4 linked regions of the Homo sapiens genome follow. The protein of the gene in region 4 interacts with the protein of the main gene of each other region in a pairwise test. Each region holds a gene or a part of one and is shown on either strand. Other genes may lie near its edges.

Region 1 (4,282 bases), on a different chromosome or scaffold from region 4:
AAAGGGGATGAGAGGACAGTTGAAGGAGACTGAATCAGAGAGGTACAGGGCTGGCAGGGCTGGGGCAGGAGATGGCAGACCACATGCAGATTCCTGCAGACCATGGGGAGGACTTTACTTTTCCATTGAGTGTGACGATTTTGAGCCAACGGATGTGATCTGACTTTTCTTTTTTTTTTTTTTTCTTTTTTGAGACAGAAGATCGCTCTGTTGCCCAGGCTGAAGTGCAATGGTGCGATCTTGGCTCACTGCAACCTCCACCTCCACCTCCCGGGTTCGATTGATTCTCATGCCTCAGCCTCCCGAGTACCTGGGACTAAAGGCGTGCGCCACCACACCCAGCTAATTTTTGTATTTTTAGTAGAGACAGGGTTTCACCATGTTGGCCAGGCTGGTCTCAAACTCCTGACCTCAAGTGATCCGCCTGCCTCGGCCTCACAAAGTGCTGGGATTACAGGCATGAGCCGCCACACCTGGCCGATCTGACTTGTTTTCTAACAGAATCTCTCTGGTTGCGGAGTGCAGTACAGACTAGAGAGAGACAGGAATGGAATGGGGCAGTTCTGAGGCTGATGCCAGGCATCCAAGTGAAAGATGACAGGAGCTTGAACCAGGTTAGTGACTGGGATGGGGAAACTAAATTTATTTGGGTAAAAACAATAAGTGGATTTCATGAAACTTGTTGAAGTAACGGGTGGTAAAAATCATAAAGGGGGTAGGCAAATAAATGATTGAAATTTGATAGTGGGTCAGGAGCTTCAGCTCTGCGGGCAGCAGTTGTGTCTCCTTGGAGAAGTGGTTTCAACTCTGAGCCGTTTTGTCATCTGCAAAATGGGGATAATAACGGTCCATACTTCATAGAGTTGTTGAGAGGGTGATGTAAAGGTTTTAGCGCACGATGTAGCACACAATAAACACTTAATAAATGTTATCTTAGAAGCCAGACTGCCAGGTTCCCATAACCATTTCAGCCGTTCACCGGCTGGCTGTTGTCATCTTGGTCAAATTATCCCTCTGCGCCTCAGTTTCCTCATCTGTGCAATGAGGCACATTAATCGTTAATATCAACTGCATAGAGTTGGGTTGTGAAGATTAAATAAATGAATACAAGTAAAGCGTTTAGAATAATGTGGACGGTAGCAAGCACGGCGAACGTGTTAACGATTATTAAGAATGTATTTTAGCCACATTTCCCAGCCCCTTCCCCGGCCTAGCATACCCCATTTTGTGGATGGGAAGTCTGCCTCTCAGCAAGGTGGCCTCTTGGAGGACGCTGTGCCCGCGTCAGGCGATCCTGTCGACTGCCGCCAAGACCCGGCTTCCGGCTTTGAGGGGCCACGCCCCGCTCGCACTCCCTGGCGGAACCTTTCAGTGCTGCGCTCGCGTTGCCAACCCGGCGCGCCTCACGCAGTTGCGCCCGCTGTTGGGACTACTTCCGGCTTCCCCGCCCCGCCCCGTCCCCGGGCGTCTCCATTTTGGTCTCAGGTGTGGACTCGGCAAGAACCAGCGCAAGAGGGAAGCAGAGTTATAGCTACCCCGGCCGCGGAGCCGGCTCACTGCACTACCCCCGCCCCCTTCTTTCCTCCAGACGCCGAAGTCGCGGGCGCTCATGGCGGGCCTGGAGGTACTGTTCGCATCGGCAGCGCCGGCCATCACCTGCAGGCAGGACGCGCTCGTCTGCTTCTTGCATTGGGAAGTGGTGACACACGGTTACTTCGGCTTGGGTGTCGGTGACCAGGTACGCCACGGAGCCGGCCAGGGTGGAGGAGGGAACTGTCTTCTGCCCAAACTCAGAGTACCGGAGGCCTGGTCCAGAGCGCCCGATTTCCCCGCTTCTCCCAGTGCAGGGTCTGGGGCAGATGGCAGCGTTGGTAAAACCTGCGGGTCGGAGGTTGCTCACCTGCCCCATCCCAGCCCAGAGTCCCTCACGGCACAGCTGGCACAACATGATTTGTAAACTCAAGGGCGGACACTCGCTTCAACACAGCCTGGCAGCCTCTCAGGCCAGGACTGTGTGGATCTAGCATTCCATAGAATGGCAAAGAATCTAGACAGGAGTTTAGCTCCCCAGAGCACTTCTCACCCACCTGATCCCGTCTGAACTCCTTACCACCCAGCCTCGGGGTGAGGGGACTGACTCAGTTCCGCCCTCATACCACAGTAGAGCCTCCACCAAACATCTGGATCCAAGCACAGGTACAGGAGTGAGCTTTGACCTACTCAGCCCCAGGCCAGGGCCCTTTTTTCACCCGTTAGCATGGGCCCAGAGAGTTCACACGCCTTTCACCCTTTACTGAAGGGCCCAGCATAGTCCACTCGCTACTGCCATCCCCAACTCAAGCTCTAGGAAGCAATCACCCCCAGAGTCGTACACACATACACCCTGGGTGTGAGGGTCATATAAGATTTTCTCCTCATAGTTGTCCCCATAGGGCCAGCCCCTCTTCTCCCATCCCCAGGCTCCACCTCTTACAGCTAGGGACGTCGTTGTCATCCCCACAGAGTTCTAGGACTGCTGGACCCAACCCACCTCACTAATTCTTTGCTCTGGCATTCTTCTTTCTTTCCTGTCTCTTCCCTGTGACCCTCATCCCCAACATCCACATCATCCTAGACATCTGCTTCCTGGGAGAAGTGGGCCTGCCTCCATGCCTGCCCCTCACTGTCACTGTTCTCTCACTCTCAGAACCAAGACTAGCCATGGGAAACAGACCACCCCACCTATTGCATCTTGCCATGAGATTTCACCCTTCCTCTCCTTTTTGACTGCTTCAGTTCTCAACTCCTCTAATCATTTTTTTTAGCTTCTCAAATAGAGTCTTAATTCTCCCCTCCTGACATAGCTTTAGGGACCTCTCTTCAAACTTGCTTTGTACATTCTGAGCACTTAGACAAGTATCCCCTTTCCCCCACCCCTCACTGCTGTCCCTATTCCTCTCTGTCTCTTAGAACTAAAGACCAAGACCACCATACCCCTCTCACACTTTACCCCCTCCAGCAGGAATCAGAACACAAGAACCGTCAGGGATTTCTGGCTCTTTTTTTCCCCAGACCTCAATTATCTCACTGGGACCCCAGGTACACACTCAGGATCCCCATTCCCACCTCCAAACTCACACATACTTCATCTCTCAAATGGGCTCTAAGACTAGATATGAGGATGGAAAAGAACAGCTAGCCTTTCACACACACATACCTGGAAGCAGGAATCATTTCACCTTCCCAAACACATCTGTCCCTGACCTTTCTCTTTGTGCTGCTCTTCATTCCACATACCTTCCAAATGTCTTCCAGCATTTCAGACCTTGGGACCAGGTAGAGACAGCACCCCCATTTCAGCGTCAGGCCCCTCTTTCAATGCATAGTTCCCCTAACAGAAATCTTGTCTCCCCACTTGTCTTACTCCAGCTTTTTAATCTTAAGCAGCTCTTCACTTGCCCCAGTCATTTTATTTCAACTTTTCCTAGATTCTTCAAAGAAACTGGTATGTGGGATGGTGCAGGGGACAGTGGGGCTGAGAAGAGGAGTAAGATTTGATTTTGACCTGGGATCTCCTCCATTGGCCCTCAGCTCCCCCTGCCCTTTGTCTTGTCCTTCAGATGGAACAGCTCTGCTTTGCACTCTGTCCCTCCTCATGTACCTCACTCCCCTTACCTACTCCTAGCTAGCTACTTAGACTCTGCCACACTGTCAGAACCCCATCCACCTCTGCTGAGGAACTTGTTCTAGAGGGCGTGTCTGATACCCTTCTCTCCTTGCCATTCCACAAATAAATATCAATCACTGTGGATCTGCTCCTACATTTCTTACCCTCACTCATGCTGTCTGAATCACTTTGACAGTTTAGGGACATGAGTTCACATAAGTCGATACCTTCTAGCTGGCATTACCACCTTGCCATACACTCAAGGCTCCAAAATTTTCAGATGAAATGTACAGAAAGAATACAATCTCATTTTAATAGTTTTTTTTTTTTTTAAAAAGGTCCTTGACCAATTCCCCAAGGTCCATCTAATTTTTCTCTGTTCATGGTGCTATTCGTTGAGCTTCTGCAGGCCAGAAAAAGATGCTGGTTTCAGACATCTTTGGGGAGGCCCAGGAGCCTGGGGAATTAGGTTTTTGTAAGGCATTGCCACCTTTCCTCTATCTACCCCAGCACTAAATCTTGCATGCCCCCGAAGGAATGAGTGTTTGGATTGCAAACTAGAGTGTGGTGTATTTTTGCTTCTCTCTGCCTTTTCTCCTTGATTGCCATTGGGGCTCAGGTTGCACTTGTCCTTCT
Region 2 (3,564 bases), on a different chromosome or scaffold from region 4:
GCCTGTAGTCCCAGTACTTTGGGAGGCCAAGGCAGGAGGATTGCTTGAGCCCAGCCTGGACAACATAAAGAGACCTCATCTCTACAGAAATTTAAAAAATTTAGTTGGCCATAGTGGTGCACACCTGTAGGCCCGGCTACTCAGGAGGCTGAGGTGGGAGGATCACTTGAGCCTGGTAGGTCAAGGCTGCAATGAGCCGTGATAGCACCACCGCACTATAGGCTTGGCAACGGAGTGAAGACCCTGTCTTAACATCCCCCCACCCCTCACAATAGGTACATTTGATGTTAGACACAGATCATTATAAAGCTTACTTAAGCTAACAAAATTCATGTAAATTTTCTCAGGTGTGAGTGAATAGGTTGTATTGGTATATAGGTGAACGTTCTTTTTGTTTTTTGAGACAGAGTCTCGCTCTGTCGCCCAGGCTCGAGTGCAGTGGCGTTACCTTGGCTCACTGCAACCTCCTACTGCAACCTCCTCCTCCCAGGTTCAAGCAATTCTCTGTCTCAGCCTCCCGAGTAGCTGGGATTACAGGCGTGTGCCACCATGCCCAGCTGATTTTTGTATTTTTAGTAGAGATGTGGTTTCACCATCTTGATCAGGCTGGTCTTGAACTCCTGACCTTGTGATCCACCCACCTCGGCCTCCCAGAGTGCTGGGATTATAGGCGTGAGCCACCACGCCCGGCCTGAAAGTTTTTTTTTTTTTTTGAGACAGAGTCTAGCTCTGTCGCCCAGGTTGGAGTCCAGTGCCGCTATCTCTGCTCACAGCAGTCTCCGCCTCCTGGGTTCACACCATTCTCCTGCCTCAGTCTCCCGAGTAGCTGGGACTGCAGGCGCACACTACCATGCCTGGCTAATTTTTTATATTTTTAGTAGAGACAGGGTTTCACCATGTTAGCCAGGATGGTCTCGATCTCCTGATCTTGTGATCTGCCTGCTGCGGCCTCCCAAAGTGCTGCGATTACAGGCATGCGCCACTGTGCCCGGCCTGAATGTTCTTTTTTTTTAAGAAGGTATATACTGTGGTTGATTGTCATGATGCCTGCAATTTTAAAATGATTCAGAGAAACAGATTACAGATAGCAAATAGGGTAAAATGTTAATTGAATTCAGATTTAGCTGTATTTTGTGTCTTTGAACTTTTCCATGATAAAAACTTGGCGGGAGGGAAACATACCTCTTTAAAGTTAATATAATTTTCACAACTTGACTTGTGTTGTTTCTTAAATTGCAAGCAGATACACACCTTTTCATAGATTTAATCTGAAAACATTCTTTCTCTTGACCCTTATGATTGAAGTGACTTTCATGTAATTTATTTATTGAGAAGATTTTGAAAAAAGAAAATAAGTGAATTGCTTTTAAAATGAAGGCGGAAGTGTGATACATTTTATTAAGATGTGAATTTTTGAGCATTTTGACCACTAGTATATACTTTTTTTAGTAAATAAAAGAGTTACTACTGTGTAATACTTTATTTTATTTTTTGAGATGGTGTTTTGCTCTTGTTGACCAGGCTGGAGTGCAATGGCGTGATACTTTATTTTATTTTATTTTATTTTTTGAGACGGAGTTTTGCTCGTTGACCAGGTTGGAGTGCAATGGTGCGATCTCGGCTCACTCCAACCTCCGCCTCCTGGGTTCAAGAGATTCTCCTGCCTCAGCCTCCTGAGTAGCTGGGATTACAGGCACCTGCCACCACACCCGGATAATTTTTTGTATTTTTAGTAGCAGTGGGATTTCACCATGTTGGCCAGGCTGGTTTCAAACTCCTGGCATCAGGTAGTCCACCCGCCTCGGCCTCCCAAAGTGCTGGAATTACAGGAGTGAGCCACTGCGTCCAGCCATATGTAATACTTTAGTAAATAAAAAGTAAAAGGGATTGATTGGCATTTTCAGTCTTTTTTTTTATGGCTAGAGATGAGTTAAAAAAATAAAATTTTAGGGCTAGGAAAAGATTTTTTATTTGGACTTTAGAAAAATCAGAGACCAGTTTTCTCTCTTCTGCTTTTTTATTTAGCTGGGAAAATACTGCAAAATTTCCCCAATTCTTTGACATGAAAAGAAGTAGGATGTGGCAGCAGTTATATTTTCAGATTAATGAATAGAAGAGATTTCAGGTCAACAAGTGATTTGCAGAGCTATAAAGATAATGCTTTGATTGTGAATTATTTACAGCTGGAAACTCTTACTTTCTTATGCTTCTTTGAACTGTAGAAGGGATGAGATGTGATAAGCTGTGTGTGTGGGGGTGTGGGTGTGGTTTGTTTTCTGTAAGATGTAGTATTGAGTTCATGCCTGCCAAAAGTTGCTTAAATTATTCCATTTCTGATTTTGAGGTACTGTCGTGTTTCTGTCTTGATTTGTACTTCATTGCCAACTAATTAATTTAAAAGCATTGTTGTTTTCTCATGGAGAATATGGTTACTATGCTTTGTTCACATGGAGCAGAATGTCAAGTGGTAATCTTAATTAAATATTTATAAGATCATATTCATGTTAGTGAATTTCTAGGAATAACACAGCCTTTTTTCTTCTTTTGTAGCATAAGCAGTACTATAATGGATGTAGACAGCACAATTTCCAGTGGGCGTTCAACTCCAGCAATGATGAATGGACAAGGAAGCACTACTTCTTCAAGCAAAAATATTGCCTATAATTGTTGTTGGGACCAGTGCCAGGCTTGCTTCAACTCTAGCCCAGATCTGGCAGATCACATCCGTTCCATACATGTAGATGGTCAGCGAGGAGGGGTTGGTTTTGTCATTTCTTTTTTTCGCTCCCTGTTTTCGTTAGTTTTATTAATTTATAATTGCTAGTTAGGCTTTTTTGCTGAAAGTAATTTGGGATTATTTTTACACAGGCTTAGTTTTTTCAAGTGAATTTTTAATAATTATTTCCCATATACTTGATAGAATCAAATAAAAATAGGGTATGTGCTGGATTTTAGTTTGTTTTTAGATACGTTATTTTGAAGAAATTAGACTTTTAAAAGTATAGTAGGTGACAGTATTATTAATGAATACAGTGTATTCCAGGGTTCTGATGTTTTGAGTTGAGAACATTTAGAATTAGCACTTTCTTGATTTTCCTTTGTTAGAGGATCCTAAATTATTCCTGACGCTTAAATTAACTGGGGAGACTATTGGTACCAGGATTAGTGTATGCAATTCTATTAAATAACAACCTGAACTCATTATTTGTGAGTGAGAATTGATCATCTTTCCCAGGTCTTGTCAGAGCTGATTTAGATGGAAAGTTCTGATTAGTTAGTATTGACCTATATGTCCTTTCAGGAATACATTTAATTGTGTCAGTTCATGTAACTTCTATTAGGTACTGAATAAAGAGCTAAGCAAATTGGGTAAGCCAAAAGTAATGTGCCAAAATATTAATTTATACATTGTTTCAACTTTACCTAGAATTTTGTTGAATAGTTATCACACTTAGTGCATTTTTCAGAAATTAATGTCACAGTGTAAGGGCAGGTAATTTATTAATATTAGGCCACACATTTCCTATCAGCCTGGCATCACTATTGAAGAACAGATAACTAACA
Region 3 (4,289 bases), on a different chromosome or scaffold from region 4:
AAAAGCCACGAAACCAGATTCCTGATTCCAGAAAGAGGCGGAGGAGGCAGGAGGGGGAAGGACTTCTTTTAAAAAGCCCCATGTGAGCTAAACAAAATACACCTACGGGCCACTTTGGGCCCACCGTCTGCCAACTTTAGACTTTCAAGACAAGGTCTAAAGGTAGTGTGGTGGGAGTGGGTAGAGTGGGCAGGAGTGGATGGGCTGAGATCAGAATGTGAAAAGCTCTCAATGTAAGCGCTGTCTCTCAAACGCGAGGGCACATGAGTCACCCAAAGTGCTGCTGAAGTTTGTGAAGCGCTACTGGAGGCAGTCCCAGAGGGCTTTGGAGCAGGAGAGGGACGCGATGAAAACAAGAGCTCAGAAAGATTAATTTGCCAACAGTGTGCAGACTGGAGATCAGCAGACAGGTTATGGGCCACAGGGTGGCAGACTTGAGGGCTCCTTTAAGGCAGCGACCCCGGCCCTGCTGAAGGGAGGCTGGCCTTCGGCCGCCCAGGCCGTCTCTCTAGTTCCGTTGGAAGCAAGGCGCTGCGTGCTCCGGACGGCTTACTGAGGGCACTTTGGGGAATCCGTCCCCACGGGCGAAGTATAGGTGGGGTGTTCGCGAACCGGCGGGCGGAGAGCACCGGCAAGAACCCCCGCAGACCGGAGGGCCACGCCTCTCGCTCCTCGGCTCATTGCAGGCGCCCACATCCCACCCCGCGGTGCTGAGCGAGGCGCATCTCGCTGCCATGGCGACCGCCTCCATGGAGACCGGGAGCAGAGGCTGCGGTCCCCGGGGGCGCGTCACAGGCTCTCCCAGCCCCCAGCCCGCGTGCCTTCTTTGTTCTGATGCTTCTCCAGGCCGGGCCAGGCACCCGGGACGCGTCTCGGGCCCGCACGGGGGTTGCTTCTTTCGAGACAGGGGATGGGGTGGAAGGGGAAGAGGTCCAAACCCTGGGGTCGAAACAGGAGTGATGGAGGGTTCCTCAGCTCCTGAACGAGACCAACACGGCCCGTATCGATGGCCGAAGCCGGCGTGGAAGCCCAGGGAGAAAGGCCACCTTCGGGAGCTCCACCCAGCCCCGAGACGCGCCCGACAGCCCTCCCGAGAGCGAAGGGCCCAAGGGAGGTGCGTCCTAAGCAAGGTTCAAGGCTAGAGGCGCTATCCCCCAGGCGGAAGAAGGAGCGGGGGCGGGGCCTATCCGAGGCCCTCCTTCTCCCTCTTCGAGTGGTCGGTTCTGGCCCCTGGCCTAGTTGGGCCGCCTGCCCGTCTTCCTCGCGAGAGCTCGCCCGGCAGGCGCGGACTAGCAGGGCGCTGCCTCGGCGACCCTGGCACGTGACGTAGGCGGCCCTCGCCAGTTGGCCGTTCTTTGGAGCCCGCTCATTGGTCCGGAGCGTCCCTCGCCCCACCCTCCCAGATCAACCAATGGGCGGAGGCGGGGGCGTGCCGACGGGAGGGCGGCCGCGGCGCGGGGCTCCCTTCCTCGTGCTCGGCGTTGAGCTCCTGCAGCCGCCGCCGCTGCAGTGGTCGTCCCTGCCCTCCCCGGCCCCGGGGTGCACCCCGCAAGGTGAGGCCACCCCTCTGCTCCCTGCCTCCCGGTTCCTTCCCGTTCGCCGAGGTCCCCTCCCGGTCCCGGCCCTGTCCTGAGCAGTCAGTGCCTGGGACCCCAGCGGCCGTGATGGCAGGGCTGGGGTGGGGGGCTCCGCTGTCGGGGCCGGGCCTGGAGGACTCCCCAGCACCTGAACTAGAGTGATGTCAGGTTCCCGGGGCGCAGTGACCGTTAGCTGGTGCAGCTGGGGTGTTTTCCGCGAAGCGATTGTCCGGGGGCATGAGTGCGGTAGTGAGGGCGGGGGCGTAATGGGGTCAGCGCCCCCTCCTCCCCACGACCCTGTTCATTGCCGCTGCCTCGCTGCATGACCTTGGACCAGTAGCATCTCTGAGCCTCCGAGCCTCAGCACCCTCAGGAAGGAGGGCAGTGATGTCTGGGAGTGCGGGCTCCGGAGACTCCTGCGTCAGCCGAGGTGAGTGAAGGTGGGGAGTGCACAGGATTATCTCCGAGGGACAGAGCCGCCGCCTCGCAGCTCAGGATGGATTGGATGGGGGGGATGTCCGATTACATTTCCCCCCTCCCCCTGAGATGACAAGAATGGGGTGTGGCGGGGGTGCCACACCCACAGGGATGGCTGCCGGAGAGGATAAAGGGTCCTACACCTGGACCCTTGGGGCCTCGGGGGCTTGGGCTGCACCTCCCTCCCGGTGGTATGAAGGAGGAGGGACTGGATTTAGGTTCTGGACCCGTGTTTCCATTAGTAAGCAGGGACTGAGAAAGGGAAGTCTCCGCTTGCCTTTCTTCTTGAATCTTGGCACTGGAAAGTGGAGGTAGGGCATTTTTCTGCTCCGGGGAGTTGAAGAAAGTCGGGGCAGCACCCCATCCCTCTCCCATTCTGGTCTTTTGTGGAGGGAAAATGTAGCTGGATATCCCCCCACATTCTATCCATCCTGAGCTACGAGGCAGCAGCCCTGTCCCTGGGAGATAATCCTGTGTGCTCCCACCCTCACCTTGGCTGACCCCCTGGATCCAGCCTGGCCTCTGCTTCTTGGGACCTCTGGATCACAGGCCCAGGGCAGGGCCTAGGTGGGGCATGCTATCTGGAGGCTAAGCACCCACTAGCTGAGGGCAAAGTGGGGAGAATGCTGGGCAGAGGAGGGCAGCACTTGTTGGGGAGGCAGGAAGGTGTGGGTGGTGAGGGTCCCTTCTCCATATTCCCCCACCCCCACCCCCAGCACCTCACTGTTAGAAGGAGAGAGAACAGCCATACTTATCTTTGCACCTTTGGCCCACTGGAGGGAGAAGGAAATTAAATCACATTAAAGCTGAGTTGATGTGAAGCTGCCACAACTACTGACCTCCAGCCTTGCCTTTCCAGGCTTTGTTCTGAGTATGTGTGGCCTCTGCTGTGTCCAGTCCTGAGAGTCAGCGGGTCAGTGTGGCCCCATCTCAAGGCCTCAATGGCTGTTCTTTTCACAGGCGTGAGCTTTAATGGGAGGCTACACAGTGCTTCTGCTGGACTGAGTGCTTGAGCCAGGACTGAGCCCCAGGCTGGGGTAGGAGAGGAAGAGGTAGGGAGGGTGGAAGGTTGCGGAGTTCCTGGCTCAGAGAGAAAGACCTCGAACCACAATGAGAATGGGGACTGAAGAAGGAATGAGAAATGAGGTCTCAGACGTTGGGAGCATGCTGACCAGAGGTGAATGGGTGTAGCTCCTCTTCCTGCACCCTGGGCTGGGGCCTGGAAGCTTGCTGACACTCCATCTCATGGGGAAGGGTATAATTTTTTTTGCTGGCGGGGAGGCACCATGTTCCTCCCTAGTCATTTCCCAGTTTCCCAGGATGTTCATTCTGCACATCTTCCTTGTGACCCCCTCTGGTTAGGGGGACTGGAAACTCCCAGCATCTGTTCTCTGACCCTCCCTAGGGACCTGGCTGCTTTGGGAGTGGGAGAAGGGGGAGGCAGGAGGAGGGAGGCCCCCTCACCCCTTGAGCTGTTTTCCAAGAAGGCTGACGTCCCTGGGGCCCACTCTAAGGGTCACTCCTGGCTCCTCCAGGATTGGCCTGAAGTGCCTCTCTGACGGTGCTGCTGAAACTGCTGTTGCTTTAGAAACCAGGCCTTTGGGGGTTTGCTTTTGCAGAGATGGGGGGTGCATTGTCACAGAGCTTCAGGCACAGTTGCAGCAAACCCTGGAAGGAAGAGGCCACTGCTTATTCCTGTGTTACACATTAGGAAACAGGGACAGAGAAGTGAAAGAACTCACCCATGCAGCTAGCAAGGGCAGATCCTGAATTTGAACCAGGACTGCTGCCTCTGGGGGCCATGTGGATTGAGCCATGGTGAGGCCTTGGTTGGCACAGGAGGAGGCTGGAGGCAGGGCCAGGCTTGGGGTTGTGTGGTGGCCTAGCTGTTCTCTGTGGACACAGCTGCAGCAGGGGAGGCCCAGTGCCCTCTTTGCCTGTTTCTGATGAGGAATTGTGTGTGCACAAGAGTCTAGCTCCCCGAGGACAGCGACCAGCAGGTTCTCCATTGAGAAAGGAGGTTTGGTTTTCCCAGTTTCCTTTGGGTTCCTGAAGTCCCTTGCTTCCTGCCTCTATGTTGTCACTATCCAGAGGGTTACAGGCCCTCAGTGTTTGCCCTTTACTGAGTACTGGCACTGCATGAGATGTGGGTCCTACCCTCAGTGGGCATGGGGCATGTCCCTCTCAAAGCAGGCATGGACAGGTAACCAGCTGACTGCAGCAAGGCCTGAGGAG
Region 4 (3,564 bases):
ACAATCTTTTATTTACTGCATGTTTAAAATATTTATATATGATTTAGAGATTAAAAATTAAACATCAGTAGTACCAGGAAAAATTAAACACTCTAATGTCAGTTCTTAAAGTTTTATGAAGACTATAGATAACTTGGCCATAATTTAATTTACTTTCTTATACATTTCCAGTTGTTTGGCACGTCTTTCGCACCATGATAGAGGGTATCCATGTTTATTCTTAGCTTCTGTCTTTGATATATAATAGAAGACTGCTAAAACCTCTGTGGAAAAACAAAAAAGATTGCATTTTGACTCATATTACTTAGGGATTCCTAAAATGTCAGAATCTATCTATGAAATTATTCATTATTCAGAATTTTTTTAAATCACAATTCCTATAATGTAAAAATCCTCATAAAACTTTACGTCTATATTTGGTTATTTAATTGATTTTAATACAATTTAAATATAAGCAGGTGAAATTTAACATATCCTCTTAATATTTAATTGAGTTTGAATTCTAAGTTTGTTAATATTGGAAATATTTATTGCATTTTTCAATCTAAGTGTAGTCATTAGAACTTTTTTCCTCAAACACATTATATGCGAGATAAAAACATTTTAAATGCTTAATAGAGACAATTTTTATGAGTAGTCACATACGAAGTGTCCTTTTACACAAAATGTTATGCAGAGGTTAGAGACTAAGACTAGACAGTGCCAATTTTATGTATCTATTGATTACATTGGCTTGATTACAGACATGCTATAAATAAACATTTGCAATGTCTTTCTTTATATTCGGATTATTTTACTGTTACAATGCTTGTAAAAGATACAATTTATGAACTTGAGAAGCCAGCTGTGGATAGTAGGAGGAACCAAACACTGAAAAATAATTTATCTAGAGCAATCATTTTTGTTCTGAAACCCATATGCAGGCCCCTGTCCTTAAGAAGCAAAGTGTGCTTTAGGAAAAGAATATATAAAGCAGAGAATTAAATTAATTGTATCACATTGTAAGTGTCTTGCAAATGCAGAAAGAATTCAAAGTGGGAACATGATGAATAGGGATGGTAAATTTTAAAGTAAATATGGTGAATATACTTAACTAGATCCTGAAGGAAGTAATGGAATTGTCTTAGTAGAGAGGAAGATGTTTGAGAGAGATATAAGAACAAAGAAGAGAACATTCAAATGCTTGTAACAATTCCCGTCAAGCATGTGCTGAGAGCAATGGATTTCAAATGTCTTTTCATCCCCAACTGTTTTGCATCCAGAGTGATCTTTTCAAAATGCAAATCTAATCATGTCACTGTCTTTTAAAACTTTCAGGGATTTCTCATTGTTCTCAGAAAAAAGAATGAAACCTTTGCTGTGGGCTACAAGTTTCTACCTCATTTGTTTCTTTGTCACCTGCAGACTCACATCATAGCCCCATCAGCCTTGCTTAGAGCTACAACTACATTCACTTCTTTCAGTTCTTTGAACAACTTGTGTTCTATCGCCCAACAGGGCCTGTGCACATGCTATCTTGACTGCTCAGAAAGTTCTTCCCTATGAAGCTCTGCACCACCTCACCCTACTTCCCCACTTAATCCCTTTTGCCTGGCTAATCATTCTTCAGATCTCAAATGAAATTTCAGTACTTTAGTGAAACCTACTTGTGTCCCTCAAAGCTAGCTGGAGTGTTTTACTTCACTTTCTAGCAAGTATCTTCTTTTCAATTGTATTTTTATATTTATTATTTTGTAATTGATATCTGTCCCTTCTCCCTCTAAGCTATAAGTTTTTTAGGGCACGGAATATATATGTTTTTACTCATCTTCTTAGCACCTAACAAAATGCTAACACTTCCATGGCAAATGCTCAGTGAGGATGTACTGGATGAATGATTGGATAGATGGTTAGTAGGAGGAATGGATGGACTTGGCTAAAGGGGTCCCTCACATGGAAAAGAGCACCACAGGAAGAAGACAAAGAAGCAGGAGGAGGAGAAATAAGAAGAGAACAGGGAGAAGAAGGAAGGAGAAGTGGCAATTACAAGTTCCCCAGAAAGTGAGGCGATATAGTTGGGGTTGCTGCTAAGCGAAGGCAAAGTGATCATGATCAGCTTGCTAAGGAGACTAGGTATTTAATCTTGAAATTCTTCAACAGACATTCCAAAGGTAACTGTTTCGTAGGCCTGATTTCAGTTTTTTATAAATATAATCCAATCTTTAATAAGCATGAAATATTAACACATATATACTTTATTCAAAAGTTAGAGTGAAGGATATATTGGTTTGAAGAAAGATTTCTATTCATGAAAAACTTCCTACACATTCCTTAAAATGTCATCCTTTCATAGTTTTCTCTTATTAATAGCTGGATATTTGCATGGCACTTCATCATTGTCAAAGTTCTTTCATGCACATATTATCTTCTTTGATTTTCACAACAATGCCAATAAATAATATTAGTATTTACGCCCATTCTGCTGGTTAGGAGCCAAAGCACAGAGAAATGAACTTAGTCTATATCACACAAATGGTGGTGCAAGATTGTTGGCTCACATTTTCTGACCGTAATTATTTTTACTATTTCTCTTTCCAGAAATTTATTCCATTTCAGCAGAGTGATCATCAACTCTGTCATCCAAACAGTAATACTTTTGAGAGTAAAAAGTTACTCTCATTGATTTTGCTTTGTTTGTGGAGCCTGTCCTGTGCATGGTAGGATGTTAGTAGCATCCCTGCCTTTTTTTTTTTTTTTGAGACGGAGTCTCGCTCTGTCGCCCAGGCTGGAGTGCAGTGGCGCTGTCTCGGCTCACTGCAAGCTCCGCCTCCTGGGTTCACGCCATTCTCCTGCCTCAGCCTCCTGAGTAGCTGGAGCTACAGGTGCCTGCCACCACGCCCGGCTAATTATTTTATTTTATTTTATTTTATTTTATTTTATTTTATTTTTTGTATTTTTAGTAGAGATGGGTTTTTCACCGTGTTAGCCAGGACGGTCTTGATCTCCTGGCCTCGTGATCCGCCCACCTCGGCCTCCCAAAGTGCTGGATTACAGGCGTGAGCCACCGCGCCCGGCCGCATCCCTGACTTCTACCTGCAAGATACCTATAGTACCCCTTCCAAATAGTGACAGCCAAAAATTGTCTCCATGTTACCAAATGTCTCCTGGGAGGCAAAATCACTCCAGTTAAGAATTACTGTTGTAGGGTAATCATACCAAAATAAACTCCATTAATTTTCAGAATTGTTCTAATGGTCTTAGGATAAACTATATTAAAACAATGCTTTGAATTATTTTGACAGTAACTCATAATTTATAATAAGAATGTATCTTTTCCAATTGTTCAGGAAATAAAACTCAGTAAGTGCGTTTCAGGGCAATTTTAATGTATTCATGACCATAGCTTACCCACTTATATCACCAGTTTGTTACAAAGCCTTCTGTCTCTTCACATCTTTAATACACTGACTTTTAGAGGTGTGATTTTTCTCCGTTAGATCCCTCCATTCAAACATGTCTAATCGCCACTAGAAATGATGAAGAAAAAGAAAGTATCATGGAAGAGTTAAGTGAAAAATACGGAGT

What was found.
Region 1: the proteins of RALYL (region 4) and PSMF1 interact in a two-hybrid assay, tested with the Homo sapiens proteins (one large-scale study listed by BioGRID and IntAct).
Region 2: the proteins of RALYL (region 4) and AEBP2 interact in a two-hybrid assay, tested with the Homo sapiens proteins (one large-scale study listed by BioGRID and IntAct).
Region 3: the proteins of RALYL (region 4) and ADISSP interact in a two-hybrid assay, tested with the Homo sapiens proteins (one large-scale study listed by BioGRID and IntAct).

The regions. Positions count from the first base shown.
Region 1 is NC_000020.11:1,117,165-1,121,446, forward strand, and holds the start of PSMF1 (proteasome inhibitor PI31 subunit), read left to right. Parts: upstream 1-1,437; 5' UTR 1,438-1,609; coding exon 1,610-1,738; intron 1,739-4,282. UniProt on the Homo sapiens protein: Plays an important role in control of proteasome function. Inhibits the hydrolysis of protein and peptide substrates by the 20S proteasome. Also inhibits the activation of the proteasome by the proteasome regulatory proteins PA700 and PA28.
Region 2 is NC_000012.12:19,459,960-19,463,523, forward strand, and holds part of AEBP2 (zinc finger protein AEBP2), read left to right. Parts: intron 1-2,550; coding exon 2,551-2,758; intron 2,759-3,564. UniProt on the Homo sapiens protein: Acts as an accessory subunit for the core Polycomb repressive complex 2 (PRC2), which mediates histone H3K27 (H3K27me3) trimethylation on chromatin leading to transcriptional repression of the affected target gene.
Region 3 is NC_000020.11:3,764,927-3,769,215, reverse strand, and holds the start of ADISSP (adipose-secreted signaling protein), read left to right. Parts: upstream 1-1,462; 5' UTR 1,463-1,553; exon of another isoform or gene 1,554-2,007; intron 2,008-4,289. UniProt on the Homo sapiens protein: Adipocyte-secreted protein (adipokine) that acts as a key regulator for white adipose tissue (WAT) thermogenesis and glucose homeostasis at least in part through activation of protein kinase A (PKA).
Region 4 is NC_000008.11:84,532,718-84,536,281, forward strand, and holds part of RALYL (RNA-binding Raly-like protein), read left to right. Parts: intron 1-3,564.